Regions from separate parts of the Homo sapiens genome. Here region 2 is linked to region 1. The links come from fine-mapping of genetic effects on gene expression. Tissue or cell type: whole blood. Region 1 holds a variant in brackets; the other region holds the start of a gene. All regions are shown on one strand. Distances are from middle to middle. Region 1 has its middle 230 kb from the start of PROS1. Region 2 holds the start of DHFR2 (dihydrofolate reductase 2).

Region 1 (15,858 bases):
TTTTCAATACCGCTCTATCATAAGTAAGGTTAAACTCCGTGAGTTGAATGCACAGATCACAAAAATTTCTGAGAATGCTTATGTCTACTTTATATTTGAAGATATTCTGGTTTCTAACTAAGGCCTCAAAGCGCCTCAAATATCCCCTGGGAGATTCTATAAAAAAGTGTTTCAAAACTGCTCTATCAAAAGGAAGTTTCAACTCTGTGAGTTGATTGCACACATCACAAAGAAGTTTCTGAGAAGGCTTCTGTCTGGTTTTCATATGAAGATATTTCCTTTTCCACAATAGGCCTCAAAGCCCTCCAAATGTCCAATTTCAGATTCAAAAAAATTGACTTTCAAAACTGCTCTATTAAAAAGAAGGTTCAAATCTGTGATTTGAATGCACACATCACAAGGAAGTTTCTGAAAATGCTTCTGTCTTGTTTTTAAGTGGGGATATTTCCGTTTCCAATGAAGGCCTCAAAGCGGTCCAAATATCCCCATGCAGATTCTACAAAAAGACTGTTTCAAAACTGCTCTATCGAAAGTAAGGTTCGCCTCTGTGAGTTGGATGCAGACACCTCAAAGAAGTTTCTGAGAATGCTTCTGTCTAGTTTTATATGAAGATATTTTTTTTTCTACCAGAGGCCTCAAGGCTCTCCAAATATCCAATTGCAGAAACTACAAAAAGAGTGTTTCAAAACTGCTCTATCAACAGGAAAGTTCAACTCTGTGAGTTGAATGCACACATCACAAAGAGGTTTCTGAGAATACTTCTGTCTAGTTTCTATGTGAAGATATTTCCTTTTGTACCATAGGCCTCAAAAGGCTCCAAAAGTCCACTTGCAGATTCTTTAAAAAGAGTGTTGCAAAAGTGTTCTATCAAAAGGAAGGTTCATCTCTGTGAGTTGAATGCACACATCACAAAGAACTTTCTGAAAATGTTTCTGTCTAGTTTTTATGTGACAATATTCCCTTTCCATTGAAGGCCTTAAAGCCGTCCAAATATCCACTTGCAGATTCTACTAAAAGAGTGGTTCAAAACTGCTCTATCAAAAGAAAGGTTCAACCCTGTGAGTTGAATGCACACATCACAAAGAAGTTTCTGAGAATGCTTCTGTCTAGTTTTTATTTGAAGATAATTCCTTTTCTAACATAGGCCTCAAAGGTCTCCAAATGTCCACTAGGAGATTTTACAAAAAGAGTGTTTCAAAACTGCTCTACCAAAGTAATCTTCAACTCTGTGAGTTGAATGCACACATCACAAAGAAGTTTCTGAAAATGCTTCTGTCTAGTTTTTAGGTGAAGGTGTTCCCATTTCCAACGAAGGCGTCTAAGCTGTCCAAATATCCACTTGCAGATTCTACAAAAAGAGTGTTTCAAAACTGCTCTAACAAAAGGAAAGTTCAACTCTGTGTGATGAAAGCACACATCACAAAGAAGTTTCTGAGAATGCTTCTGTCTAGTTTTTATATGAAGATATTTGCTTTTCTACCATAGGCCTCAAAGCGCTCTAAATATCCACTTGCAGATTCTACAAAAAGAGTGTTTCAAAAGTGCCCAATCTAAAGTAATGTTCAACTCTGTGAGTTGAATGTACACATCACAAAGTGGTTTCTGAGAATGGCTCTGTCTAGTTTCCATGTGAAGATATTTCCTTTTCCACCACAGGTCTTAAAGCTCTCGAAATGTCGACTTGCAGATTCTACAAAAAGGGTGTTTCAAACGCTGTCTATCAAAAGAAAGGTTCAACTCAGTGAGTTTAATTCACACATCACAAATAAGTTTCAGAGAATGTTTCTGTCTACTTTTTATATGAAGATATTTGCTTTTCTACCATTGACCTCAAAGCGCTCCAAATATCCACTAGCAGATTCTTCAAAAAGAGTGTTTCAAAAGTGCTCTATCTAAAGGAAAGTTCAACTCCATGAGATGAATGCATAGATCACAAAGAAGTTTCTGAGAACGATTCTGTCTAGTTTTTATTTGAAGATATTCCCATTTCCAATGAAGGCCTCAAAGCGGTCCAAATATCCACTTGCAGAATATAAAAAAAAAGTGTTTCAAAACTGATCTATCAAAAGGAAGGCTCAATTCTGTGAGATGAACGCACACAACGCAAAGAAATTTCTGAGAATGCTCCTGTCTAGTTTTTAGGTGAAGATATTCACGATTCCAACGAAGGCGTCAAATCTGTCCAAATATCCATTTGCAGATTTTACAAATAGAGGGTTTCAAAACTGATCTATCAAAAAGACCGTTCAACTCTGTGAGTTGAATGCACAGATCACAAGGAAGTTTCTGAGAATGCTTCTGTCTAGTTATTTGAAGATATTCCTGTTTCCAACGAAGGCCTCAAAGCGGACCAAATATCCACTTGCAGATTCTACAAAAAGAGTGTTTCAAAACCGCTCTATCAAAAGGAATGTTCAACTCTGTGAATTGAATGCACACATCACAAAGATGTTTCTGAGAATGCTCAGGTCTAGTTATTTGAAGATATTCCCATTTCAAATTAACGCCTCAAAGCGGTCCAAATATGCACTTGCAGATTCTACAAAAGGAGTGTTTCAAAACTGCTCCATCAAAAAGAAGTTTCAACACTGTGAGTTGAATGCACACATCACAAAGATGTTTCTGAGAATGGCTCTGTCAAGTTTCTATGTGAAGATATTTCCTTTTCCACCGCAGGCCTCAAAACACTCCAAATTTCCAATTTCAGATTCTACAAAAAGAGTGTTTCAAAACTGTTCTATCAAAAGGAAGTTTCAAATCTCTGAGATGAATGCACACATCACATAGAAGTTCCTGAGAATGCTTCTGTCTAGTTTTTATTCGAAGATATTACCGTTTCCAACGAAGGCCACACAGTAGTCCAAACATCCACTTGCAGATCCTACAAAAAGAGTTTTTCAAAACTTCTCTATCTAAAAGAAGATTGAACTCTGTGAGTTGAATGCACACATCACAAAGTACTTTCTGAGAATGCTTCCGTCTAATTTTTAAGTTAAGATATTTGCTTTTCTACCATAAGCCACAAAGCGCTCCATATATCCACTTGCTCATTCTACAAAAAGAGTGTTTCAAAAATGCTCTATCAAAAGGAAGGTTCAACTCTGTGTGTTGAATGGACACATCACAAAGAAGTTTCTGAGAATGCTTCCATCTATTTTCTATGTGAAGATATTTCCTTTTCCACCACAGGCCTTGAAGCGCTCGAAATGTCCACTTGCAGATTCTACAAAAAGAGTGCTTCAAAGGCTTTCTATCAAAAGAAAGGTTCAACTCTGTGAGATGAATGCACACATCACAAAGAAGCTTCAGAGAATGCTTCTGTCTACTTTTTATATGTAGATATAAGCTTTACTACCTTAGGCCGCAAAGCGCTCCAAACATCCACTTGCAGATTCTTCAAAAAGAGTGTTTCAAAAGTGCTCTATGAAAAGAAAGGTTCAAGTCTGCGAGTTGAATGCACAGATCACAAAGAACTTTCTGAGAATGCTTCTTTCTATTTTTTATTTGAAGATATTGCCGTTACCAACAAAGACCTCAAAGCGGTCAAAATATCCACTTGCAGATTATAAAAAAGAGTGTTTCAAAACTGCTCTATCAAAAGGAAGTTTCAACTCTGTGAGATGAATGCACACATCACAAAGAATTTTCTGAGAATGTTTCTGTCTACTTTCAATGTGAAGATATTTCCGTTTCCATCACAGGCACCAAAGCCTTCCAAATGTCCACTTGCAGATTCTACAAAAAGGATGTTTCAATACTTCTCTGTCAAAAGGCAAGTTCAACGCTGTGAGTTGAATGCACACATCACAAAGAAGTTTTTGAGAATCCTTCTGTCTAGTTTTTATTTGAAGATATTTACTTTTCTACCTTAGGCCTCAAAGTGCTCCAAATGTCCACTTAGAGATTCTACAAAAAGAGTATTTCAAAACTGCTCCATCATAAGTAACATTCAAATTTGTGAGTTGAATGCACACATCACAAGGAAGTTTCTGAAAATGCTTCTGTCTAGTTTTTATGTGAGAATATTCCCGTTTCCAATGAAGACCACAAAGCGGTCCAAATATCCACTTGTGTATTCTCCAAAAAGATTGTTTCAAAACTGCTCTATCAACAGAAATATTCACCTCTGTGAGTTGAATGCACACATCACAAAGAAGTTTCTGAAAATGCTTCTGTCTAGTTATTTGAACATATTCCCCTTTCCAACGAATGCTTGAAAGCGGTCCAAATATATACTTGCAGATTCTACAAGAAGAGTGTTTCAAAACTGTTCTATCAAAAGGAAGGTTCAACCCTGTGAGTTGAAAGCACACATCACAAAGAGGTTTCTGAGAATGTTTCTGTCTAGTTTCCATGTGAAGACATTTTCTTTTCCACCATAGGCCTCAAAACCCTCCAAATGTCCCTTTGCAGATTCTACAAAAAGAGTGTTTCAAAACTGTTCTATCAAAAGGAATTTTCAAATCTGTGAGTTGAATGCACACATTACAAAGAAGTTTCTGAGAATTCTTCTGTCTAGTTTTTATTCGAAGATATTCCCGTTTCCAACGAAGAACTCAAAACAGTCCAAATATCCTATTGCAGATTCTACAAAAAGAGTGTTTCAAAACTTCTCTATCAAAAAGAAAGTTCAACTCTGTGAGTTGAAAGCATACACCACAAAGAAGTTTCTGAGAATGCTTTTGTCTAATTTTCTTATGAAGATATTTCCTTCTCTATCAGAGGCCTCACAGCGCTCAAAATGTCAACTTGCAGATTCTTCAAAAAGAGTGTTTCAAAACTGCTCTACCAAAAGGAAGGTTCATCTCTGTGAGTTGAATGCACACATCACAAAGAGGTTTCTGAGAATACTTCTGTCTAGTTTCTATGTGAAGATATTTCCTTTTCTAACAGGGGCCTCAAAGTGCTCCAAATGTTCATTTTCTGATTCTTCAAAAAGTTTGTTTCAAAACTGATCTATCAAAAGGAAGGTTCAACTCTGTGCGTTGAGTGCACACATCACAAACAGGTTTCTGAGAATGCTTCTGTCCAGTCCCTATGTGAAGATATTTCCTTTTCCATCACAGGCCTCAAAGCCCTCCAAATGTCCACTTGCAGATTCTACAAAAAGAGGTTTTCAAAACTGTTCATTCAAAAGGAAGATTCAACTCTGTGAGTTGAATGCACACATCACAAAAAAGTTTCTGAGAATGCTTCTGACTAGGTTTTATTTGAAGATATTTTGTTTTCTACCATAGGCCTCAAAGAGCTCCAAATATCCACTTGGAGATTCTACTAAAAGAGTGTTTCAAAACAGCTCTATCAAAAGTAATGTTCAACTCAGTGAGTTGAATGCACACATCACAAAGAAGTTTCTGAAAATGCTTCTGTCTAGTTTTTATGTGAGAATATTCCCCTTTCCCACGAAGGCCTCAAAGTGGTCCAAATATTCTGCAGATTCTCCAAAATTAGTGTTTCAAAACTGCTGTAACAAAATAAATGTTCACCTCTGTGAGTTGAATGCAGACACCAAAAGAACTTTCTGAGAACGCTTCTGTCTACTTTTTATGTGATGATATTTGATTTTCTACCATAGACCTCAAAGCGCTCCCTATATCCACTTGCAGATTCTACAAAAAGAGTGTATCGATACTGCTCTATCAAAAAGAAGTTTCAACTCTGGGAGTTGAATGCACACAACACAAAGAAATTTCTGAAAATGCTTCTGTCTGGTTTTTAGGTGAAGATATTCCCGTTTCCAACGAAGGCCTCAAATCTGTCCAAATATCGACTTGCAGACTCTACAAAAAGAGTGTTTCAAAACTGCTCTATAAAAAGGAAGGTTCAACTCTGTGAGTTGAATGCACAGATCACAAAGAAGTTTCTGAGAATGCTTCTGTCTAGTTATTTATTTGAAGATATTCCCTTTTCCAACGAAGGCCTCAAAGCTGACCAAATATCCACTTGCAGATTTTACAAAAAGCGTGTTTCAAAACCGCTCTATCAACAGGAAGGTTCAAATCTGTGAGTTGAATGCACACATCACAAAGAAGTTTCTGAGAATGCTCCTGTGTACATAATTGAATATATTCCCATTTCCAACGAAGACCACAAAGGTGTCCAAATATCCACTTGCAGATTTTACAAAAAGCGTGTTTCAAAACCGCTCTATCAAAAGGAAGGTACAACTCTGTGAGTTGAATGCTCACATCACAAAGTGGTTTCTGAGAATGGCTCTGTCTAGTTTCTATGTGAAGATATTTCCTTTTCCACCACAGGCCACAAAATCCTTCAAATGTCCTCTTCCAGATTCTACAAAAAGAGTGTTTCAAAACTATTCTATCAGAAGAAATTTTCAAATCTGTGAATTGAATGCACATATCACAAAGAAGTTTCTGAGAATGGTTCTGTCTAGTTTTTATTTGATGATATTCCCATTTCCAACGAATACCTCAAAGCAGTCCAAATATACAATTGCAGATCCTACAAAAAGAGTGTTTCAAAACTTCTCTATCAAAAAGAATGTTCAATTCTGTGAGTTGAATGCACACATCACAAAGAAGTTTCTGAGAATGCTTTTGTCTACTTTTCCTATGAAGATATTTTCTTTTCTACCATAGGGCTTAAAGTGCTCCAAATGTCCACTTGCAGATTCTTCAAAAAGAGTGCTTCAAAACTGCTCTATAAAAAGGAATGTTCAACTCTGTGAGTTCAATGCACACATTACAAAGGAGATTCTGAGAATGCTTCTGTCTAGTTTTTATTTGAAGATAATCTCTTTTCCAATGAAGGACTCAAAGAGGTCAAAATATCCACTTGCAGATTATACAAAAAGAGAGTTTCAAAACTGCTCTATCAAAAGGAAGGTTCAACTCTGTGAGATGAATGCACTCATCCAAAGAAGTTTCTGAGAATGCTTCTGTCTAATTTCTATGTGAAGATATTTCCTTTTCCACCAAGGGCCTCAAAGTCCTCTAAATGTCACTTGCAGATTCTACAAAAAGGGTGTTTCAAAACTGCTCTATCAAAAGGAAGGTTCAACCCTGTGAGTTGAATGCTCACATAACAAAGAGGTTTCTAAGAATGCTTCTGTCTAGTCTCCATGTGAAGATATTTCCTTTTCCATCACAGGCCTCAAAGCCCTCCAAATGTCAACTTGCAGATTCTACAAAAAGAGTGTTTCAAAACTGCTCTATCAAAAGTAATGTTCAACTCTGTGATTTGAATGCACACATCACAAAGAAGTTTCCAAAAATGCTTCTGTCTAGTTTTATATGAAGAAATCCCGTTTCCAACGAAGGCCTTAAAGGGGTCCAAATATCCACTTGCAGATTCTCCAAAAAGAGTGTTTAAAACCTGCTCTGTCAAAAGAAAGGTTCATCTCTGTGAGTTGAATGCACACATCACAAATTACTTTCTGAGAATGCTTCTGTCTAGTTTTTATGTGAAGATATTTGATTTTCTACCATAGGCCTCAAAGCACTCCAAATATCCACTTGAACATTCTACAAAAAGAGTGTTTCAAAACTGCTCTATCAAAAGGAAGGTTCAGCTCTGTGAGTTGAATGCACACATCACAAAGAAGTTTCTGAGAATGCTTCTGTCTAGTTTTTATTTGAAGATATTCCCGTTTCTCACGAAGGCCTCAAAGCAGTCCAAATATCCACCTGCAGATTCTACAAAAGCAGTGTTTCAAAATTGCTCTATCAAAAGGAAGTTTCAACTCTGTGAGTTGAATGCACACATCACAAAGAAGTTTCTGATAATGCTTATGTCTAGCTTCTATGTGAAAATATTTCCCTTTCCACCACAGGCTTCAAAGCCCTCCAAATGTCCACTTGCACATTCTACAAAAAGAGTGTTTCAATACTGTTCTATCAAAATAATATTCAACTCTTTCAGTTGAATGCACACATCGCAATGAAGTTTCTGAGAATGCTTCTGTCTACTTATTTGAAGACATTCCCATTTTCATCGAAGACCTCAAAGCCATGTAAATATCCACTTACAAAAAGAGTGTTTCAAAACTGCTCAATCAAAAGTAATGTCCAACTCTGTGAGGTGAACGCACACATCACAAAGAAGTTTCTGAAAATGTTTCTGTCTACTTTTTATATGAGAATATTCCCGTTTCCAAAGAATGCCTCAAAGGGGTCCAAATATCCACTTGCAGATTCTCCAAAAAGAGTTTTTCAAAACTGCTCTATCAAAAGAAAAGTTTACCTCTGTGAATTGAATGCACACATCACAAGTTACTTTCTGAGAATGCTTCTGTCTAGGTTTTATATGAAGATATTTGATTTTCTACCGTAGGCCTCAAAGCACTCCAAATACCCACTTGCAGATTCCACAAAAAGAGTGTTTCAAAACTGCTCTACTAAAAGGAAGGTTCAACTCTGTGAGTTGAATGCACACATCACAAAGAAGTTTCTGAGAATGCTTCTGTCAATTTTTTATTTGACAACATTCCACTCCCCAACGAAGGCCTCAAAGCAGTCCAAATATTCAATTGCAGATTCTATGAGAAGAGTGTTACAAAACTGCGTTATCAAAAGGACGGTTCAACCCTGTGAGTTGAATGCACACATCACAAAGAAGTTTCTGAGAAATTTTCTGTCTACTTTTTATATGAAGATACTTTTCTACCGTAGGCCTCAAAGTGCTTCAAATATACACTTGCAGATTCTACACAAAGAGGGTTTCAAAAGTTCTCTATCAAAAGGAATGTTCAACTCCATGAGTTGAATGTACACATCACAAAGAAATGTCTGAGAATCCTTCTGTCTAGTTTTTAGCTGAAGATGATCCCGTTTCAACGAAGGCCTCTATGCTGTCCAAATATCCACTTGAAGATTCTACAAAAAGTGGGTTTCAAAACTGCTCTAGCAAAAGGAAGTTTCAACTGTGTGAGTTGAATGCACACATCATCAAGAAGTTTCTGATAATGCATATGTCTAGCTTCTATGTGAAAATATTTCCCTTTCCCCCACAGTCCTCAAAGCTCTCCCAATGTACACATCCACATTCTACAAAAAGAGTGTTTCAATACTGCTCTATCAAAAGGAAGGTTCAACTCTGTGAGTTGAATGCACATGTCAAAAAGAAGTTTCCGAGAATGCTTCTGTCTATTTATTTGAAGACATTCCCATTACCAATGAAGGCCTCAAAGCGGTGCAAATACCCACTTGCAGATTCTCCAAAAAGAGTGTTTCAAAACTGCTCTATCAAAAGAAAGTTTCACCTCTATGAGGTGAATGCACACTTCACAAAGTAATTTCTGAGAATGCTTGTGTCTAGTTTTTATGTGAAGATATTTGCTTTTCTACCATA[G/A]GCCCCAAAGTGATCCAAATATCCACTTGCAGATTCTACAAAAAGAGTGTTTCAAAACTTGTGTAGCAAAAGGAATGTTCAAATCTGTGTATTGAATGCACACAACAAAAAGAAGTTTCTGAGAATGCTTCTGTCTACTTTCAATGTGAAGATATTTCCTTTTCCAAGCAAGGCCTTAAAGCACTCCAAATGTCCACTTGCACATTCTAGAAAAAGAGTGTTTTAAAAGTACTCTATCAAAACAATGGTTCGATTCTGCGAGTTGAATGCAAACATCAAAAAATGTTCCTGAGAATGCTTCTGTCTAGTTTTTTTATGGAGATATTTGCTTTTCTACCATAGGCCTCAAAGCCTCGAAATATCCACTTGCAGATTCTACAAAAAGAGTGTTTCAAAACTGCTATATCCAAAGGAAGGTTCAACTCTGTGAGTTGAATGCACACATCACAAAGAAGTTTCTGAGAATACTTCTGTCTAGTTTTATATGAAGAAATCCCGTTTCCAACGAAGGCCTCAAAGAGGTCCATATATCCACTTGCAGAATCTACAAAAAGAATGTTTCAAAACGGCTCTATCAAGAGGAATGTTAAACTCTGTGAGTTGAATGCAAACATCACAAACTAGTTTCTGAGAATACTTTGTCTACTTTTTAGGTGAAGATATTTCCTTTTCTACCATAGGCCTCAAAGCACTCTAAATACACACTTTCAAATTCTACAAAAAGAGTGTTTCAAATCTGCTCTATCAAAAGGAAGGTTCAACTCTGTGGGTTGAATGCACACGTCACAAAGAAGTTTCTGAGAATGCTTCTGTCTAGTTTTCACATGAAGATATTTCCTTTTCTAACAGAGGCCTCAAAGCGCTCCAAATATCCACTTGCCGATTCTACAAAAATAGTGTTTCAAAACTGCTGTATCAAAACGAGTGTTCAGCTCTGTGAGTTTAATGCACACATCACAGATATGTTTCTGAAAATACTTTTGTCTAGTTTTTATGTGAGAATATAACGGTTTCCAACGAAGGCCTCATGGTGGTCCAAATATACACTTGCAGATGTTCCAAAAAGAGTGTTTCAAAAGTGCCCTATCAAAAGAAATTTTCCCCTATGTGAGTTGAATGCACACATCACAAAGTACTTTCTGAGAATGCTTCTGTCTAGTTTTTATGTGAAGATATTTGCTTTTCTACCATAGGCCTCAAAGCACTCCAAATATACACTTGCAGATTCAACAAAAAGAGTGTTTCAAAACTGCCCTATCAAAAAGATTTTTCAACTCTGTGAGTTGAATGCACACATCACAAAGAACTTTCTGAGAATGGCTCTGTCTAGTTTCCATGTGAAGATATTTCCTTTTCCACAACGGGCCTTAAAGTGCTCCACATTTACACTAGCAGATTCTACAAACAGAGTGTTTCAAAACTGCTCTATCAAAAGAAAATTTCGACTCTGTGAGTTGAATACACACATCACAAAGAAGTTTCTGAGAATGCTTCTCTCTAGTTTTTATATGAAGATATTTGCTTTTCTACCATAGGCCTCAAAGTACTGCAAATATCCACTTGCAGATTCTACAAAAAGAGGGTTTCAAAAGTACTCTATCAAAAGGAATGTTCACATCTATGAGTTGAATGCACACATCAAAAAGAAATTTCTGAGAATTCTTCTGTCAAGTTTTTAGGTGAAGATATTCCCGTTTCCAATGAAGGCCTCAAATCTGTCCAAATATCCACTTGCAGATTCTACAAAAAGAGTGTTTCAAAACTACTTTATCAAAAAGAAGTTTCAAATGTGTGGGTTGAATGCACAGATCACAAAGAAGTTTCGAGAATGCTTCTGTCTAGTTGTTATTTGGAGATATTCCCATTTCCTACGAAGGGTTCATTGTGGTCCAAATATCCACTAGCAGATTCTACAAAAAGAGTGTTTAAAAACTTCTCTATCATAAAGAAGGTTCAACACAGTGAGATGAATGCACACATCACAAAGAAGTATCTGAGAATGCTTTTCTCTAGTTTTCATATGAAGATATTTCCTTTTCTACCATAGGCCTCAAAATGCTCCAAATGTCCACTTGCAGATTCTTCAAAAAAAGTGTTTCAAAACTGCTCTATCAAAAGGAAGTTTCAATTCTGTGAGTGGAATGCACGAATCACAAAGTTGTTTCTGAGAATAATTCTGTCTAGTTTCAATGTGAAGATATTTCCTTTTCCACAACAGGCCTCAAAGCCCTCCAAATGTTCAATTGCAGATTCTACAAAAAGAGTGTTTCAAAACTGATTTATCAAAAGGAAGGTTCAACTCTGTGAGTTGAATACACACATCACAAAGTAGTTTCTGAGAAAGCTTATGTCTAGTTTTTATTTGAAGATATTTCCTTTTCTACCATAGGCCTCAAATAGCTCCAAATGTCCACTTGCAGATTCTACAAAAAGAGTGTTCCACAACTGCTCTATCAAAAGTAATGTTCAACTCTGTGAGTTGAATGCACACATCACAAAGAAGTTTCTGAAAATGCTTCTGTCTAGTTTTTATGTGAGAATATTCCCGTTTCCAATGAAAGCCTCAAGGCAGTCGAAATATCCACTTGCAGATTGTCCAAAAAAAGTGTTTCAAAACTGCTCTATCAAAAGAAAGATTCATCTCAGCTAGTTGAATGCACACATCACAAAGTACTTTCTGAGAATGCTTTTGTCTAGTTTTTCTGTGAAGATATTTGCTTTTCTATCATAGGCCTCAAAGTGCTCCAAATATCTAATTGCAGATTCTATAAAAAGAGTGTTTCAAAACTGCTCTATCAAAAGGATGGTTCAGCTCTGTGTGTTGAATGCACACATCACAAACAAGTCTCTGAGAATACTTCTGTGTAGTTTTTCTTCGAAAATATTCCAGTTTCCAACGAAGGCCCAAAAGCAGTCCAAATAGCCGCTTGCAGATTCTGCTAGAAGAGTGTTTCAAAACTGCTCTATCACAAAGAAGCTTCAAATCTGTGAGTTGAATGCACAAATCACAAAGAAGTTTCTGAGAATGCTTTTATCCAGTTTTCATATGAGACATTTCCTTTTCTACCAGAGGCCTCAAAGAGCTCCAAATCTCCACTTGCAGATTCTACAAAAAGAGTGTTTCAATACTGCTCTATCAAAAGAAAGGTTCAACTCTGTGAGTTGAATGCACACATCACGAAGGAGTTTCTGAAAATGCTTCTGTCTACTTTTTAGGTGAGGATATTCTTGTTTCCAACAAAGGCCTCAAAGTGGTCCAAATATCCTATTGCAAATTCTACAAAAAGAGTGTTTCAAAACTGCTCTATCAAAAGAAAGATTCACCTCTGTGAGTTGAATGCACACATCACAAATAAGTTTCTGAGAATGCTTCTGTCAAGTTTTATATGAACATATTTGCTTTTCTACCATTGGCCTCAAAGCGCTCCAAATATCCACTTGCAGATTCTTCAAAAAGAGTTTTTCAAAACTGCTCTATCAAAAGGAAAATTGAAAACTGTGAGTTGAATGCACACATCACTAAATGGTTTCAGAGAATACTTCTGTCTAGTTTCTATGTGAAGATATTTCCTTTTCTAACATAGGACTCAAAGCATTCGAAATTTCCACTTGCCGATTCTTCAAAAAGAGTGTTTGAAAACTGCTCTATCAAAAGGAAGGCTCAACTCTGTGAGTTGAATGCACACATCACAAAGAAGTTTCTGAAAATGTTACTGTCTAGTGTTTAAGTGAGGATATTCCCCCTTCCTCCACAGACCTCAAAGCCCTCCAAATGTCCACTTGCAGATTCTACAAAAAGAGAGATTCAAAAGTGCTCTATCAAAAGGAAGGTTCAACTCTGTGAGGTGAATACACACATCACAAAGAAGTTTCTGCGAATGCTTCTGTCTAGTTCTTATTTGAAGATATTCCCGTTTCCAACGAATGCTTCAAAGCGGTCCAAATATTCTCTTGCAGATTCTACAAAAAGAGTGTTTCACAACTGCTCTATCAAAAGGAAGGTTGAACTCCATGAGTTGAATGCACACATCAAAAAGGAGTCTCTCAGAATGTTTCTGTCTAGTTTCTATGTGAACATATTTCCTTTTCCACAATGGGCCTCAAAGCCCAACAAATGTCCACTTGCACATTCTACAAAAAGAGTGTTTCACTACTGCTCTATCAAAAGGAATGTTCAACTCTGTGAGTTGAATGCATAGATCACAAAAAAGTTTCTGAGATGCTTCTGTCTAGTTTTTATTTGAAGATATTCCCGTTTCCAATGAAGGCCTCAAAGTGGTCCAAATATCTACTTGAAGATTCTACAAAAAGAGTGTTTCAAAACTGCCCTATCAAAAAGAAGGTTCAACTCTGTGAGTTGAAGGCACACATCACAAAGTAGTTTCTGAGAATGCTTCTCTCTACTTTTATATGAAGATATTTGCTTTTCTACCATAGGCCTCAAATCGCTCCAAATATCCACTTGCAGATACTACAAAAAGAGTGTTTCAAAACTGCTCTATCAAAAGGAATGTTCAACTCTGTGAGTTGAATGCACACATCACAATGTGTTTTGTGAGAATAATTCTGTCTAGTCTCTATATGAAGATGTTTCCTTTTCCACCACAGACCTTAAAGCGGTTCAAATGTCCACTTGCACGTTCTTCAAAAAGAGTGTTTCAAAAGTGCTCTATCAAAAGAAATGTTCAACTTTGTGAGTTGAATGCACACATCACAAAGTGGCTTCTCAGAATTCTTCTGTCTAGTCTCCATGTGAAGATATTTCCTATTTCACCACAGGGCTCAAAGCCCTCAAAATGTTCACTTGCAGATTCTACAAAAAGTGTGTTTCAAAACTGCTCTATCAAAAGAAAGTTTCGCCTCTGTAAGTTGAATGCATACATCACAAAGAAGTTTCTGAGAATGTTTCTGTCCAGTTTTCATTTGAAGTTATTCCCGTTTTCACAGAAGGCCTCAGATCTGGCAAAATATCCCTTTGCAGATCTTACAAAAAGAGTGTTTCAAAACTGCCCTATCAAAAGGAAGGTTCAGCTCTGTGAGTTGAATGCACACATCGCAAAGTAGTTTCTGAGAATGCTCCTGTCTGGTTTTTATATGAAGATATTTCCTTTTCCACCATAGGCCTCAAAGCACTCCAAATATCCACTTGCAGATTCCACAAAAGCTGTGTTTCAAAACTGCTCCATCAAAAGAGAGGTTCAACTCTGAGAGTTTAAAGCACGCATCACAAAGAAGTTTCTGAGAATCTTTCTGTCTAGTTTTTAGGTGAAGATATTCCCGTTTCCACAGAAGGTCGCAAAGATATCTAAATATCCACTTGCTGATTTTTCTTACAAATGAGTGTTTCAAAACTGCTCCATCAAAAGGAATGTTCAACTCCGTGGGTTGAATGCACACATCACAAAGAAGTTTCTGAGATTGCTTCTGTCTAGTTTTTGTGTGAATATATTCCTGTTCCCACCGTAGGCCTCAGAGCACTCCAAATATCCAGTTGCAGATTCTACAAAAGGTCTGTTTCAAAACTGCTCTATCAAAAGGAAGGTTCAATTATGTGACATGAATGCACACATCACAAAGAAGTTTCTGAGAATGCTTCTGTCTAGATTTTATGTGAAGATATTTCCTCTTCCACCACAGGCTTCAAAGCCCTCCCAAGTTGCAATTGCAGATTCTACAAAAATAGTGTTTCAAAACTGCTCTATCAAAAGGAAGGTTCAACTCTGTGAGTTGAATGCATACATCCAAAGAAATTTCTGAGAATGCTTCTGTCTAGTTTTTAGGTGAAGATACTCCCATTTCCTCAGAATGCCTCACAGCTGCAAAATATCCACTTGCAGATTCTACAAAAAGAGTGTTTCAAAACTGCTCTATCAAAAGAAAGGTGCAACTCTGTGAGTTGAATGCACACATCACAAAGAAGTTTCTGAAAATGCTTCTGTCTAGTTTTTAAGGGAGGATATTCCCGTTTCCTATGAAAGCCTCAAAGTGGTCCAAATACCCCCTTGCAGATTCTACAAAAAGAGTGTTTCAAAACTGCTCTATCAAAAGAAAGATTCACGTTTGTGAGTTGAGTGCACACATCACAAAGAAGTTTCTGAGAATGCTTCTGTCAAGTTTTATATGAAGATGTTTTCTTTTCTACCATAGGCCTCAAAGCGCTCCAAATATCCATTTGCAGATCCTTCAAAAATAGTGTTTCAAAACTGCTCTATCAAAAGGAAGGTTGAAAACTGTGAGTTGAATGCACACATCACAAACTGGTTTCAGAGAATACTTCTGTCTAGTTTCTTTCTTTTTATTATTATTATACTTTAAGATTTAGGGTACATGTGCACGTAGTGCAGGTTAGTTACATATGTATACATGTGCCATGCTGGTGCGCTGCACCCACTAACTCGTCATCTCGCATTAGGTATATCTCCCGATGATATCCCTCCCCCATACCCCCACCCAACAACAGTCCCCAGAGTGCGATATTCCCTTTCCTGTGTCCATGTGATCTCATTGTTCAATTCCCACCTATGAGTGAGAATATGCGGTGTTTGGTTT
Region 2 (15,858 bases), 320 kb after region 1:
TGCTTAAACAACAGAAATTTATTTTCTCAGTTCTGGGGACTGGTAGTCTGAGAGCAAGTTGGTGGGTTTGCTTTCTCCTGAGGCCCCTCCTTGCCTGATAGATAGACACTGTCTTGTGTCCCCACGTGGCCTTTTTTCTCCACCCACCCCCACTGTCTCTGTGTGTTCGATTTTCCTCTTTTTATGACTTCTTATAACTTAACTTTGTAAAGGCCCATCTCCAAATATAGTCACATTCTGAGGTACTGGGGGTTAAGGCATCAACGTGAATTTTGGGGGGACAAATTTCAGCCCATAACAGTTAACATACTTGTTCTACTGCACTATGTACATTTTAAATACACTTCCCTAAAAAAAGAAATTTTAAAAGACTACATAAAGCTTAATAAAAATAAAAGTCATTATATTTACTTCCTAGACACAGTGGATTGTCTGCTGGAGTTTGTACAGACCACATTGGAGCCCTGAAATTTAGTAAAATGAGAATCTCACCTGACGTTTAAGCCTAAGATTGCCTATAACTATGCTGTGTTCTGTAGCATTGATCACAGGTTTCCTGTTGTGTTTTCCTGTTGTTTTTCTGCCATATATTTTAAGGAGCTCAGGGCTCTCTTGATGTCATATTGTTTTACTACAAAGCGTCTCCTTACCTTTTTGACAACATAAACCTCTATATGAACATGAAGGGTTTTGACACATTTTATATAAATATGAAAATTCATAAAACATAGTTTAGGAGTTATTCCATAAATTACTCTGAAATACTTCTTAAGACCAACTGACCTTATAATAAAATTGCTTAGATATGTAAAAATTTGTTTCCTGCCTAGAGGTACGTCCTTATTAAGCTGCTTGGTTCTTTAACGCTAACATTAAAAAAAGCACAAAAAACAAACTAATGTGATTTATGTTATTTGTGTCAGCTCAATGTCTTATGTCTGCAGTGGTTTAATTCAAGTTTGCTGCTAACAGTTTTTATTCCTAAAACTCAATGTAGAATTGTTTGTTCTTTGGTAGCTATTTGGGGTGCGGATGGGGAGTAAAATCCATTAACATTCTCATGATACACATATATTGATTCTAGATAGATTAAGAGGTTAAACATAAAAGATCAAACTATGAAAAGGTAAGGGGAGAAACAGAAGTGGCTTCACTCGGGGAAAAAATGTATAAGCCTGAAAGCAGTGGAATCAATAAACTCAATTTACAATGCACAAAAAAAATTTTAAAATACCTTCACACTTAAAGTCAAATGGTTATAAGAAAAATTGAGAAAGTGTTTTAACATCTGACATGGTTATCTCAAATATAAATAAAATGATACTAAGACACCTATAGATAAGTGGACATGAGCGGTAATCTAAAAAAGAAATAACTAATAAGATTTGAAAACCTACCCAAACTAAGGGCATAATTAACTAGGCATTATAAGGAGATTATTAGAGATTCAGACAAAATTCATAAGCAAAGTTGTTTATTTAAAATCAGAAAATATAAAGATGCTGAGTCCCAAAAATGTGATAAAATTAATATGACCTCTTTCCAAGTATAACACATTGCCTTTCTCTAACAGAAATAAACTATGATTCTTATTACAGTCTTAAAATTCTTTTTTTAATGAATGAGTGTAACTTTTTATTAAGATAGAATTATTTTTATTAAAGAAATATATGAAAATGGTTAAGTAAAATCAAATGGCTCCAAAAGTCTTACAATGAAAACAGTCCTGCGACTTGTTCTTTCCAGAGGAAAGCACTTTTCATTCTCTTAGTTTTTCCTTCTGGTAGTTACCTCCATGGGTTTTAAAAAATTACTATTTTTTTAGTTTTTCAAGTGAATACATATATTAATACATGTAATCTTTAAAAGCCTCTTCAGTTTATAATGCATCCTAACAGTCCCCTGCCCCATCCCTCCTAATTCTCTGGAGCAATGACTTCTAACTCTTCTAGCAATGTTCCATTCTTTTCTTCACATAACTACTTAGTCATTTCTTGATTATGTTATACATTATATAGTGATTTCTTGATATGACAGATGAGGATTTAGCTCTTACACCATCACTATCTTCACTTTTCCCCCCATATTGTCCCAAAGTAGTTACCAGATTTAGGGGCTAAGCAGTCAGTCACCACATCATTATGACTATGTACATATTGCCCATTGTTGAGAAAAACAGCGTATGATGCTCTTACTTCCTATCCTGTACTTCTTCCTGCCCTAGAATTAATTATTGCCTAACCAACCCTTCCCCCTTGTTTTTTTTTGTTTTTTTTTTTTTTTACTTTTGCTTTATCTTCAATGCACTTCTTTCCAAATGCCCCAAATCTGGCAATAACCTATTATTTTTAAGAGAAGGGATCTCACTATGGTGGCCAGGCTGCTCTGAACTCTTGGGCTCAAGCCATCCTTTTGCTTAGCCTCCTGAGTAGCTGGGACTACAAGCATGGGCCATCCCACCCAGCTAATCTATTAGTATTTTTACTGTTTCTTTTTAAAGCTAGCTCCATAGCTGGAATATTGCCTGTGTTGGATACTATTTGCTGGATCCACGTCATTCTCTGGTTTGTGTACGCCTTCATTTTGCTGGAGTATTTTCTCCGATAGCTTCCCAAGAAAGGGTACATGTAACCCCTGAGTCTTTGCTTGTCTAAAAATGTATTATTTTACCTTCACCCTTGATTCTTTGCCTGAATATAGATTTATCAGTTGAAAATAACTTTATAGAATTCTGAAGGCATGGTTCCGTTGTTTTCAGATTCTTTTTTGAGACAGGGTCTCTTCTGTCACCCAGGCAGGAGTGCAGTGGCAAAATCACGACTCACTGCAGCCTTGAACTCATGGGCTCAATTGAATCCTCCATCTCAGCCCCGTGAGTAGACGAGACTACAGGTGTGTGCCACAATGCCCAGCCAATTTTTGTATCTTCTGTAGAGACAGGGCTCCACCATGTTGCCCAAGCTGGTCTCAGGTGATCCACCCACCTCAGCCCCCCAAAGTGCTGGGACCACAGGCGTGAGCCACCACTCCTGGCCAGTTTTTAATTCTCTCTCTACTTCTTTCATTTCTCAAAGGCATCTCAAACTCAGTGGGCCCAAAACCAAAGTCAAACTCCATCAGAATATCCTGCTACTTCCAACTTTAAAATATATCTTAAATCACAATTTCTTACCACATGCAATCCTTTGGTTCAAACTACCATCATCCCTCACTTGAACCTAGAATTGGTTTTCCTGCTTCTGTACTTTTTTAAATTATAAAATATTTCAAATAAACCATGTGTGGCTTTATACTTTTTACTAAAAGAATGAAGATCTGCCAAGTGCAGTGGCTGATGCCTGTAATCCCAGCACCCCTGAAGGCCGAGGCAGGAGGATCACCTGAGGTCAGGAGTTCGAGACTAGCCTGACCAACATGGAATGTCCCCACCAAAAATACAAAATTAGCCTGGCGTGGTGGCACGCGCCTGTAGTCCCAGCCACCCAGGAGCCTGAGGCAGGAGAATTGCTTGAACCTGGGAAGGCTGAAGTTGCCGTGAGCCAAGGTTGTTCCATTGCACTCCGCCTGGGCAACAAGAGTGAAATTCTGTCTTAAAAAGAAAAAAAAAAAAAAGTATGAAGAGTTTACATACTTAAACATGGAATTGCTTTAAGTGTTTGGCATTCACCGTTCCCGTACATTACAGCAGCTTCTTTCAGCAAACACCTGGAACTTGCTATTGAGTAGGTGGAGTACGTTCTGCCCACACACAGGACAGGGAGCTGACAACCAAGGAGTGGGGGTTAAATACTCTAGCTTTCTCCCCTCCGTTTCCCTGTATCTCAGCAGTATGGAGCTCGTTACCATTGAGAACCTCCTCACTGATTTTGAACTGGTTTTTACCTTCTCAGTTCCATTTCTCCATACTTCGATTGATGACTTCTGGTATGACCTAGCAAATAAACTGCTTTCACTTAAATTTCAGTCTTGGAATCTGCTTTGGGTTCCCCAATCTAAGACAGAAATATATTCATTTTCCCATCACTGGACTTCCAGGTTGTTTTCAGTTTTTCACTGTTACAAAAAAGGCTGCAACATTTGTCTACAAACCTCTGGATATACATGTACGAAGCTTTTGGTATTTCCTACTAGTGAAACTGCTCAGCTGAAGGGTATGTGCATCTTCATCTTTAATAAATACTACCAACATTAGAAAAGCCTGACAATGTCAAGGAGTGGCAAGAGTGCCACATGTGATGGGTGTGGAATGGCAGCTCACTGTAGCAGGTGCTGGGGACTCAGTCGGGGTCTTGGAGAGACAGTTATAGCAAGAATGTTTCATAAATGGTATCTGATATAGCCAAGATTAGTGAGGAATAAAAACACGTTGCTTAGAAATAATTATCCATAGATCTGAAGTCAACAAAAGTCCCTTTTCTAATGTAAAAATGCATACTTTTCTCAGAGGGAGGGGGAACAACTTAAACCAGAAAACACCTTCATATTAATCATCCTTCTCACATACTTCAAATTTGTACTTGATGTGTTTCCCCTCCTGGACATCAGAGAGAACACCTGGGTATTCAGGCAGAAGTTTATATTTCTCCAAGTCAATTTCTGAAAAAAACGTGTCACTTTCAAAGTCCTGCATGATCCTTGTCACAAATAGTTTAAGATGGCCTAGGTGATTCATGGCTTCCTTATAAACAGAACTGCCACCAACTATCCAAATCATGTCTACTTTATTTGCTAATTCTGGTCGTTCAGTAAGTTTTAAGGCATCATCCAAACTTCTGGCAAGAAAATGAGCTCCTTGTGGAGGTTCCTTGAGTTCTCTGCTGAGAACTAAATTAATTCTATCCTTTAAAGGTCGATTCTTCTCAGGAATGGAGAACCAGGTCTTCCTACCCATAATCACCAGATTCTGTTTACCCTCTACTGAAGAAGTTGTGGTCATTCTCTGGAAATACCTGAATTCATTCCTGAGCGGCGGCCTGGGCAGGTCCCCGTTCTTGCCGATGCCCATGTTTTGGGACACAGCGACGATGCAGTTTAGCAAAAGAAACATGACAGCAGCGGTTAACACCTCCGAACTTGCTGGCTACGCCAGGAAGCCAGGCCAAGAATGCCGCGAAATTCCCTTCTTCAAATTTTTTTACGTGCCTACATTGCAAATACAATACCACTGTATTAATTAATTGCAACATTCTGGAATGAACATAGAAAAATAAATTATATAAAATATATTTATAAAGTATAAATTTATAAAATATTTATAAAATATAAATTTATAAAATTATAAAAAATACAGAGGCTGAAAGGTTAGACCGACTTTTCCACAAACATTAAACAGACGGCATCCAAGAGATGGCATCATTTCATTCCTGATTATCATAGTCTTTTGTACCAAATCTAAATTCTAATAAGATGCATTTTTTAGGTGACTTGGAAACTTGTTTAAATAAATAAATATATTAAGCTTCAAATCAGATTAGAAGGAAAGACATGTTTTTACATGAATATAAGACTTGTACCTATAGCATGTACGTATATTGATATGAGCATCAAGGAACAACTCAAAATGATGATTATTAACTATCAGGGACCATATCAAACCGGTTTTTTCTAATTGCTGATTGCTGCTACAAATGATAGTTACTGAAGCATGACACCAAAAGAGCAAATAAACTTCTATTCGTGTCAAAATAGGTGTAATAAACATCTTCCTTGGAGAACCATTAAACATTGCTCCCTTGTAAAGGTGAATTGGGGAGGCTAGAGTGGAGGGTCCTTTTGGTCTTCACGCATTTGGTATCAACGCGACAAAAATCACAATGATCACAATAGTGAAAATAATAGCAGCTAACATTTGGGCATTTACTGTTTCCTAATCACTGTTGTAACCGCTTTACATGCCTACTTCAGTTTAACACTCTCCATTAAAAGGAGAGATTATCCCCATGGGCCAGGTCTGGGGAAAAGCATGACTTAATTTCTTTTTCATTATATTCCACCCTTTTATCCTTGGGTACTGAATGTCTAGGTTAACAGGGGTCACTAGATTTGGTAGATTAAGTCAGTAACTAGCTTCGCTTTGAGAATATTTTAAATCAGTCATCATACAACATAACCCCAAAACTCATTCCTTTATTGAGCCCCATGCATATACACACTGTTCAGCACAATATGCGACTTTTTATTTATTTTTGAGACAAAGCCTCGCTCTGTCGCCCACGCTGCAGTGCAGTGGCGCGATCACGGGTCACTGCAACCTCAAACTTCTGCCCAAGCGATCCTCCCACCTCAGCATCCGCAGAAGCAGGGGCCGCACAGGCGCGCAGATGTGTGACTTTCTAAGGTCCGGCCGCCCAAAGCTACGCCGACCAATCCAAGTAGCGAAAGTCGCTTTGGCCCTGGCCCGTTACCTCCGCGTCCTGGGAAGTATCAGCCTTTACCAGCTACCGGAAGTAACTGCGCACGAAATCTCCCGCGGGAGCTAAGCCTCTTCGACAAGAATTCTATAGCGCGAGCAAATCAGTATCTCGCGAGAAATTGAAGAGGAAACGTGAGAATGAAAGTGGATGCCCGCGAATCCCGGAAGTCAGACTGTTTTTTTCAGTTCCCTGGAGGCTTTTTGATACTGATTCGCGTACACCTGTTGTTTGAAAGCTCTCAGCGGGACAATGCTGACCCAGGTGAGACCTGGGGCCCGGCTGGGTACCTCTATCTGAATGAGACGCTTCTGGACGCGGCCGAGGTGGCGAGGGAGGGTGCTGGGATGGGGGAACATCACCTTTGTTCGTCCCCTCGCGAGATCAGCGTTTCTTTGGCTTTACTGTCAAGCCCTGAAATAATGCTGAGTGCTGTAATGCTGAGTCCCTTCCGTCCAGCTCGCAGACTTCTAGTACCCACTCCCTCCAGCTCTTGGAGGGCTGAGATTTGTTTTCTGTGTCACAGCGGTATCCCGGGAGCTTAGAACAGTGTCTGTTACATAGTAGGCATTGAATACACGTTTCTTGGATGAATAAATGAAACAATTGCAAGGAAGTTCACGATGAAATTGGAGTGACTTTTCTCCCTAAATTAACTTTTCACTTTAAAATAACGTTGCAAAGATAGTACAGAGTTCTCAAATACCTTTCACCAATTTTTCTTGATGTCAGCATCCCCGGTGACTTTTTAGTTTTGTTTAGATACAAGTTCTTGCTCTGTCACCCAATCTGGAATGCAGCTGCTCCATCATAGCTCACTGTAACCTTGAACTCCTGGGTTCAAGCGATCCTCCAGCCTCAGCCTCCCTAGTAGCTAGGACTACAGGAGCAGGCCACTACGCCTGGCTAATTTTTTTTTTTTTTTTACTTTTTGTAGAGACACGTCCTTGATATGTTTTCCAGTCTGGTCTTGAACTGGGAAATGATCCTCTCGCCTCGTCCCTGCAAAGCATGAGCCAGCTGGAGTACAGTGGCGCGATCTCGGCTCACTGCAACCTCCACCTCCTGAGTTCAAGCGATTCTCCCACCTCAGCCCCCTGAGTAGGTGGGGTTACAGGCGCCCACCACTACTCTCGGCTAATTTTTGTATTTTTAGTAGAGACGGGTTTCCCGTGTTGGCCAACCTGGTCTTGAACTCCAGACCTCATGTGATCCTCCCGCCTCTGCCTCCCACAGTGCTGGGATTACAGGTGTGAGCCACCTGCCTAGCCCCTACAGTGACTTTTTAAAATTAATTTTGTTCCTTTTGACAGTTTCTTCAGCCCCAGTAGATTCTGTTTTAACCTTTGCTTCACATTTGGAAAATAATTATTTGGAAAAACCTTGCTTTTTCATAATTAGATAATGTACAGTTTTGGTACATGTAAGGTATTGCTTCCATTTCAAGAACTAGTAATTATCCAAAAAAAGTGTTCTTGTCTTAAAAAAAGACCTTGCTAATGTTGACGTTCAGTAAATTTGTAATATCACTGTGTGTCAGCAACTTTTTCTTATCGTCATAGCTGAAAGCAAAATCAGAGGGGAAGCTTGCAAAACAGATTTGCAAAGTTGTGTTGGATCATTTTGAAAAACAGTATTCCAAAGAACTCGGAGATGCCTGGAATACAGTAAGGTTAGTATAATTCATCTCGATGCTTTATGATGGAACAAAGTACAATATGTAGTCCTCCTTTTTGTGGGAGGGATGCTGTGAGGTTAAAAGGCAAAGGAATCTAAATCTGGTTGCCTTTTCCTACTGAAGCTATAGAAAGGAACAACTAAGAAGAAATAGAATGAATCATAGCATGTTGGAAAGGGGAAATAAAACTTTGTCGGGATGGTAAGCACAAATTGTTACGCCTTTGCTTTGAGCAATTACTTTGATCCTTGAAATAGGAATGCCCACTAGTTTGACAAAATTAATTATACTGTAAAAGAAAAAAACATAAAATTTGGAATATTTGACTGATTTCTGAAATTTAGAAGATAATACAACAAATCTTTAAAGCCAGCACTGCTTTATCTCAGCCAAAGGTACACTTTATTTGGTAATCATATTTCTTTCCTATGTCGATGGCTGGGTATATTTTGAACACGTGCATATACACACAAAATTATTTAAATATAAAAATAAGGAATGTTTAATGCATGGAAGTGGGAGAAATGTGATTTGTCTGTTTGGTAAGATGATGTTAATGTATGGATTACTGTATGGGTTCTTGACATTGAGTGCCTGATACACTATATAACCCTCTCTGGAATACAGAGCAAGACAGTCTGCATGTCCAGTTTACATGCCGTCTAGTTAGTGTTAATGGGAGAAGTGAGGAGATGGGTGTGGTTACAACTATATAAACTAATTTGTAAATACTGTGATCCAAGTATCTAACAAAGCCTGAGGGTGCCAGCAAAGGCCTGAAGGGAAGCTGGGTCTTGGTGACTTAGAGGAGTTACTTTGACAAAAAGAACTAGGCCTCCTAGGTTGAGGGAAGAAGGTGCACTGTTCATGAAGTTAGGGCAAAAGCCCACTACATGTTGCATGAGGAAAAAAAGTTGCATGGCTACAGATATTATCTGGAACTTGGTCCAGACTAATTTTTCAGATGGTTGGCTTGTCCATTTTTTTCTTGGATCAACTCTTAAGCATTTCTCCTTTACAAAGGGCAGTTCTGAGCATTTTCTAAAACAAATTAAGTTTTGGCTAATAAAGATCACAAAGTCTGAGGTGATTCTGAGATAATTTTAGGACAATTAAGCTGTTATAGAAATTGGTAAATGCTGTAATATGCAAACCGTTTATACTCGTGGGTTTTATTTCAAAAGTAGATTTTCAAATGGGTATTTTCTGTCACAGAGATGAAGAACTGAATAATAAAGTATGTAATAAATTTATGAGGTTTTCAGTATACAAAGGTACTCAAATAGAGTATCCAAATAACCAAACACTTATTGCATGTTTACTATATGCCAGACAATACTGACTTACATGATCCTCAGAACAAACCCGTTAAGAGTTTAAGTAATTTGCCCAAGTTCACTCAGCTAATAAGTGGCAGAGCTGAGGCTTGTGCCTGGGTTGTCTGACTCAATAACTCCCACAGCTCATCCTTGTTCTGTACTGTCTCATATCTGGGATGTGATTTAAAAAAAAAAAAGATTTCAAGAGGCTTTTTTTTTTTCTGTAGACTTTGTAGCAGTCTGGCTACTCATATCCTATAATGACTTATTTTTCTACTTAGTGTACTCAGAAAGTCATATACTATTATTTGACCCTGAGCAAAATGAGCAATGAACCTCAAATCCATTTAATTAGCTGTGCCTTCTGCTTCATTTACCCTATTGTGGGGTTTTTGTGGTAATTTAAGTTTTGCATAAACACACACTAAATTTGCCATAGGCAAAATAAAGGTTTCTCAGCTTAGGAAGTAGTCTGAGCATGGAAGATGGTATGGGGAAATAAGAACAGAATGAAATATTTTGTGTTTTAACTGCTTGTTTGCAAGACATAATGTACTTGTAGAGTCTACTTCCAGGGAAAGTCAAGTGCTCTTTTTTTGGCCTATTTAGAAAGTAATTTATTCAATATTTTTAGTTTCCTGTAGTAGTGAGGAAGATTTAGTATTTAGTTTTGCTCTTTTTTAGTAACCTTTCTTGTCTAGTCATCCTCTGAGCAGCCCTTTAAAATTGGAGTTTACCCTGGTTCAATTCTTGCTCTATTTGTTGCCTCCATGTTCTCCTCAGGTAAGCCCATTCATGGCATGACTTTTATCAGTATGCTGTCATCTCAAGCTGTGAGGTTCTTCCTAAGATTTAGTCCCATACTTCTGTTTTTTAGCAACTTCAGTTACTTGGCAAACTCAAAAGTGTATTATTATTTTTCCCTTTCAAACTTATGTTGCCTTTGCTACCTGCATATTTTATCTCAATTAAGTGTATCACCATCAGTCTGGTTTCCTCCTTTCTTCTCTATACCTTCACTACCTTTGTAGTAAAAAATGAACCTTATATAAAAATAGGTCTGGCAACTGCCCTCAGCTCCTGGGAGGCGATCTCTAAGCCCTTGGAATGTGCTTCCTGATAAGTGTGTCTTTGTTTACCTGGGTGTTGAGGTCACACCTGATAATCTAACGATGTGATTTATGTTGAGGCCTGGGGACCACAGGTGTCAACTCAACATCCAGAAGGGCTTGTGACTAAAAGCTGTATGGACAGTCAATCATATATACGTGACCAAGCCCCAATAAAAAGTGGATACCAAGGCTTTGGTGAGTGTCCCTGGTTGGCAATACTCTTGTGCATACTGTCATACATTACTGCCAGCAAAAGTTGACCTCGTTGATGATTCCGTTGGAGAGGACAGCTGGAAGCTTCATGCTTTGAATTGTTGTGAATTCTGCACTATGAGTCTCTTCCTGTGATTGTTTTTAATCTGTATGCTTTCATTATAATAAACTGTGACTATAACTGTGATTATAACAGCTTTCAGTGAGTTCGGTTGTGTCCCAGTGAATAATCAAACCTGAGAGTCATCCTTGGAATCCCTGAACTTGTAATTGGTGTCAGAAGTGAGAGTTGTCTTTGAGACTCAACTACCCTGCCCCCTTTTAATTTGGATCTTTTTAAAAAAATTCTCTACTGCTGCCATTCACTTAGACCTTCCCAATCTCTTATCTGGCATATTGCAACAGCCATGTTTAGTACTTACCTGTTTGCTTATTTTAGCAACCACTTTTATGGCACTATGTACCAGTCAATGTTGTAATCACTTTATGAATAATAACAATCCTATGTACAACCCTCTGAAATAGTTATTTCCATTTATATATAGGAAAGCTGAGGCACACAGAGGTTAAGTAACTTGCCCAAGTATACACATCTCACACTTTAACTTGCCCAAGTATACACATCTAACACTTTGAAGAGCCTTGAGAGTTTGTTGTACCCACTCTGTCATGCTGTTTCTCGGTGCTACCAAATTCCATTGTGTCACACCTTGAGTACAAACCTTTGCTCCCCAGAAGTCTGCAGTATTATGTTTGGACTAAAAATCTTATCTTTCTGGGCAGGCTCCTTCATGCCTTTGGGACTGGCTATGCTGTTCTTCTGCTAGGAATGCCTTTTTCCCTTCTCCCTCTGTGCAGTAGTGTGGGTTCAAATCCCACCTCTGCATCTTGTAGCATATGACCTAGGTGAGTTAATATCTCTGTGCTCCATTGTCCTCGTCTGTAAAATGGGGAAAAAATAGTATCTATTTCATATAATCATTTGGGAAGATAAAATGAATTTGTGTATATACAATGTGAATGGAATGTTGTTTGACGTATAGTAAGGACTTCATATGCATTAGCATTATTTTTGTTACTATGATTAACCACTTCATCAAGCCTTCTGTATGTCCCTTGGCAAAATTAGTTTTGCCCTTCGTGTATCCATTGCATTTTGTTGATAGAGCTATTGTGATTCTTTCAAGGTTTTATCGTCATAATTTACTAACTTGCTTATCTTTTTCCTGACAAGGGAGGGTTTTGAAGAACCAATACCTTGAGACTTGGGCAAGTCTTCTGCTTATTCCCAGTTTTGTCAGTGTTTGTGTACTAGGCATTGTGCTAAGCACTGAGAATACAAAAATGGACTGTATATATCCTGCCCTCAAATACATGTATGATTAATTGGATAATTAATGGATACTTAATAAATGTATGATTAATATAAGCATTAATTAGAAATATTTATTAACTGTGGAAATTTTACATGTACTTTATAGAAAGCAAAACAAACAGACCATATAAGTCTGAACTGTCTGCAACATCTTTTTTTTTTTGGACACTCTCCTCACTGACCGAGAGTTCACATACAGAGAGGAAAAAAAAATACACACACACACACACACACACATACACACACACAACCTGATAATATTACCATAATCTGTGAAGGATGTAGACTGAGGTGGTTAAGAAAGAGAGAAATGAACCAGTATCTAGATTTCTATATTGTCCTATATGTTGGCTTTACACACATTTTCAGCCTTAATCTGTGCAAATCTCTGTGAAGAAGTAACTTTTAGACACTTTAAAGTCAGAGGTTAGAACAATTGATAGGTATCTTGTAGTTGTGGCAAATTCAGTCCTGTGACTTAAAAGTCCACGCCTTTTCCTATACCATCTGTGCTGCTGTGAAGGGTCCAGAGTTGCATCCTTCCAAATGTATGCTCAGATCCCGTAGTATGAAGGACTCTTATGTTCAGGATTTTTAGCCTTTTGATGTTCCACCAGAAACGCAAAGGATTTCCTATCTGAGGTACAGTGAATAACAAATCTGGACATAAATTGCCCTTCTGTGAGATACAAGGAAGATCCATTGCCAAAATAGAATAGGAAGCCATCAGCTCTTCGTTAGCATCTCTGAGGAGTAAAAATAAAATGACTCAAAAACATACTTTGGTGCATTTCCATAAATTGATTTGTTTTTCATTTCTAACTTTTAAAAGAGTTGAATGAGCACCCTCTAGTGGATAATAATAGCACTAAATCAAGGAATTTCTCTTTTTTAGCTATGGAAATTTAAATAGGTTCTGTAATCTACAGGGTTATATTAATTGTGTTTAACAATTTCTAGATTAAATGATATTTTTCATCTTCGTCACTAGGACGGAAGGTAGGGTGGAGAGTAGAGTAGTAGGAAAAAAGAATAAAGTCACAGAAAAGTTGAATGAAAATTATACTATCAAATAATAAACATTATCGAAATGATACATTATACAGTTTTGCAAAATTTTAACTTAACTAGCTTTTAATTTTTTAATGCTTTAATTTTGTTAAAATAGTAAGTAGTTCAGAGAGCCTTGAATCAGAACTCCAATTTTATTCATTTACTCCAGGATTTAGGCCCCAGGCACTTAGCCAAGGAGAAAAATAAGTCAAGGCTCCCATATAAATGAGTTAGGGAAATGGGTAAGCAGGCAGGGTGACACACAGTGTGATATATTAGTTTAGCTTCATTAACTGTTTCTCAAAATTCAGTTATTCTTGTGTACCATCTGTCTAGTTTTACTTAATTTTTTTTTGGTCAGTTTTAATATTTTTCTTTTGTTTCTTAGGAATTTTTCTTTTGTTTCTTAGGAATTTATTTTTCTTTTGTTTCTTAGGAATTTAAGCTTATTTTATATCATTATCAGTAAATAGATGTGCCTAGCCTATAGTTGACAGACGGTGTATTTTTAGAGAATGAATGAATGTTGACAAGAAGATAATATACGATGGCTCACACCTGTAATTCCAGCACTTTGGGAGGCCAAGGCAGGAGATTTGCTTGAGGGCGGGAAGATTGCTTGAGGACAAGAGTTCAAGACCAGCATGGGCAATATAGCAAGACCTCATCTCTAGAAAAAATAAGCAATTAGCTGGGTGTGGTGGTGCGTGCCTGTAGGCGCAACTACTTGGGAGACTGAGGTAGGAGGATCGCTTGAGTCCAGGAGGTCGAGGCTTCACTGAGCCATGATCGCACAGCTGTACGCCAGCCTGGGTGACAGAGTGAGACCTTGTCTCTAAAAAAAAGAAGACAAAACAGACTTAGCATGTTGGAGGGAGGAGCAACAATGAGTGAGAAATAGAAAGACTTTTCAAGGGGGTATGTAGGCTCAGGCAAGTGACCGCAGTCAGTTTTCACATCCTCAACTTTCATGTATTCTCTTTCAGAAAATTACTCTGCCCCTCTGTACATAAGGGGGCACATATTCTCCTTTCCCAACCTGCCTTTCTCCAATTTCCCTTCACCCTTTTCACAAAAAGAAAGGCACACTTGCACCATTCTGGCTTCTATGCTATGTTCCTCCAGGTATTCAAAACCTCCATATGCCAGAAACTATTGGAGTGTCAGTGTGAGAAAGCAAATGACTAACAGATTCTCTGACAAGTCAGGTGGTTTCCAAGTTTTGCTTTCAACAAAAGTAAAGGAGCCTTGATTGAGATGTCAGCTATCAATTCATTTAAGACATTTTTGATGATAGGTTGCTAAGTGATTTGGGGATATAACTCCAAAAGAATTCAAAGTAAGAAACATTGCTATAACAAAATATATTTAATTCTCATCCACTTATTTAACTGAAGGTTTTTCTCAGCTTTTATAAAAAACACAAAATAGGCATAAAAATGATGTTGAATCCTGACTGATTTTATTATAGTAAGAAGTAATATTCATTTATGGATATATGGAAACAAAAGCTCATTTCATTAAGTATCCATTTCTTACCAATTTTTACTTTTATAAGTTGTTTTGATCGGTTTTGTACTAATAATATTATTGATCCCTGAATCCAGAAGTTACCATTTTAACACTTAGAGATTTAAGACCACAGGAAAAACAAATTTAGTACATACACATGTGTATATGTGGGGGCTAGAGAAGCATGATAGGGTGATAAAAAGATTTCAAGCATGAAAATATATTAAGATGAAGTTATATGAAGTAGAATGTAAATAAAAGAGGAAAACGAGCAGCATAAAATTTCCACCTGTTAAAGATGAGTCAGTCTATGAATTTTTAAATGGATGATGATGGGTATCAAAATCATTATGATATTTAGTTTCCACTGGGCACATACTAAAGGCAGTATAATTTGTATTTTAAAATGTCAATTTTTACAGTATGCTGGAAATTGCATCCTTTAAACATATGGTGAGATTTTAATGTCAACTTAAAATGTGTTTTTTTTCAAAATGATATCAGTGGTGCACTAGCAAATTTGCAGGTCACTGACCTTGTATGTCTCCAGTTCTGCTGGCTACTGAGGTACTTGCACTTCTTCTCACCTGGAAGACCAGTAAATGGAGCCGCTTCAGACTAACTGTGAATCTTGGGAAAAGGCCTGGAGTGTGGCACCTGGCCGCTGTTTTCTAGAGTCATCTAACATACATTCCCTCTACTGCCTGCTAAGCTACTTGCCCATCCATAAAAGCTTTGGATTCGGAAGCCACTTTCCCTCCAGCCCCAGGTTAGCAACCCACCCAGTGCAGGCACAGGAGGGGTTGTATGTGTGTGTGTTGTGGGGAGGAGAATGGAGGTCAGTGGCAGGTGTGTGCAAGGGGAACTGTAAGAATCATATTAATACACAGCTTTGCTTTCTCAGGGCTAGGAAGCACCAGCCTGAGCAGCCTTAGCAGTCCCTTCAAGAGTTGGTCTGTTGCAGCTGCTTCTATAGGCAGGATGTGGCAAGCTGATTTCATTGTTAGACAGAAGAGGGTTTCAGGGAGGTCATGGCCACTTGCACTAAGTGAGGGTTGGGGTAAAATTCTCTTTCTTGCCCCCTTTTGTAGCTCTGTGCTGTAGTACCAGGGTCTCACACGTTGGGAATCACTTCTGTTAGACTTTAAAGTCAGTCTGATTTTGAATCAGATACTTCTGCGTACTA

The links.
Region 2: DHFR2 starts here. The variant in region 1 is fine-mapped to the expression of DHFR2 in whole blood (INTERVAL, PIP above 0.99). The same link has a PIP of 0.9 or more in aorta and sigmoid colon.

The regions. Positions count from the first base shown.
Region 1 is chr3:93,732,220-93,748,077 of GRCh38, forward strand. No RefSeq gene overlaps it. Among named protein-coding and RNA genes, the nearest start is that of PROS1, 230 kb to the right of the region's middle. The variant G/A (reference allele first, on the strand shown) is at 9,310.
Region 2 is chr3:94,056,465-94,072,322 of GRCh38, forward strand. It overlaps DHFR2 (dihydrofolate reductase 2), which reads right to left and starts at 6,452. Exons shown (of 2, transcript NM_176815.5): 1 at 6,282-6,452; 2 at 1,458-5,142. The coding sequence starts at 5,047. The coding sequence ends at 4,484. It overlaps NSUN3 (NOP2/Sun RNA methyltransferase 3), which reads left to right and starts at 6,597. Exons shown (of 6, transcript NM_022072.5): 1 at 6,597-6,674; 2 at 7,973-8,082. The coding sequence starts at 6,663. RefSeq lists an enhancer at 6,491-6,730.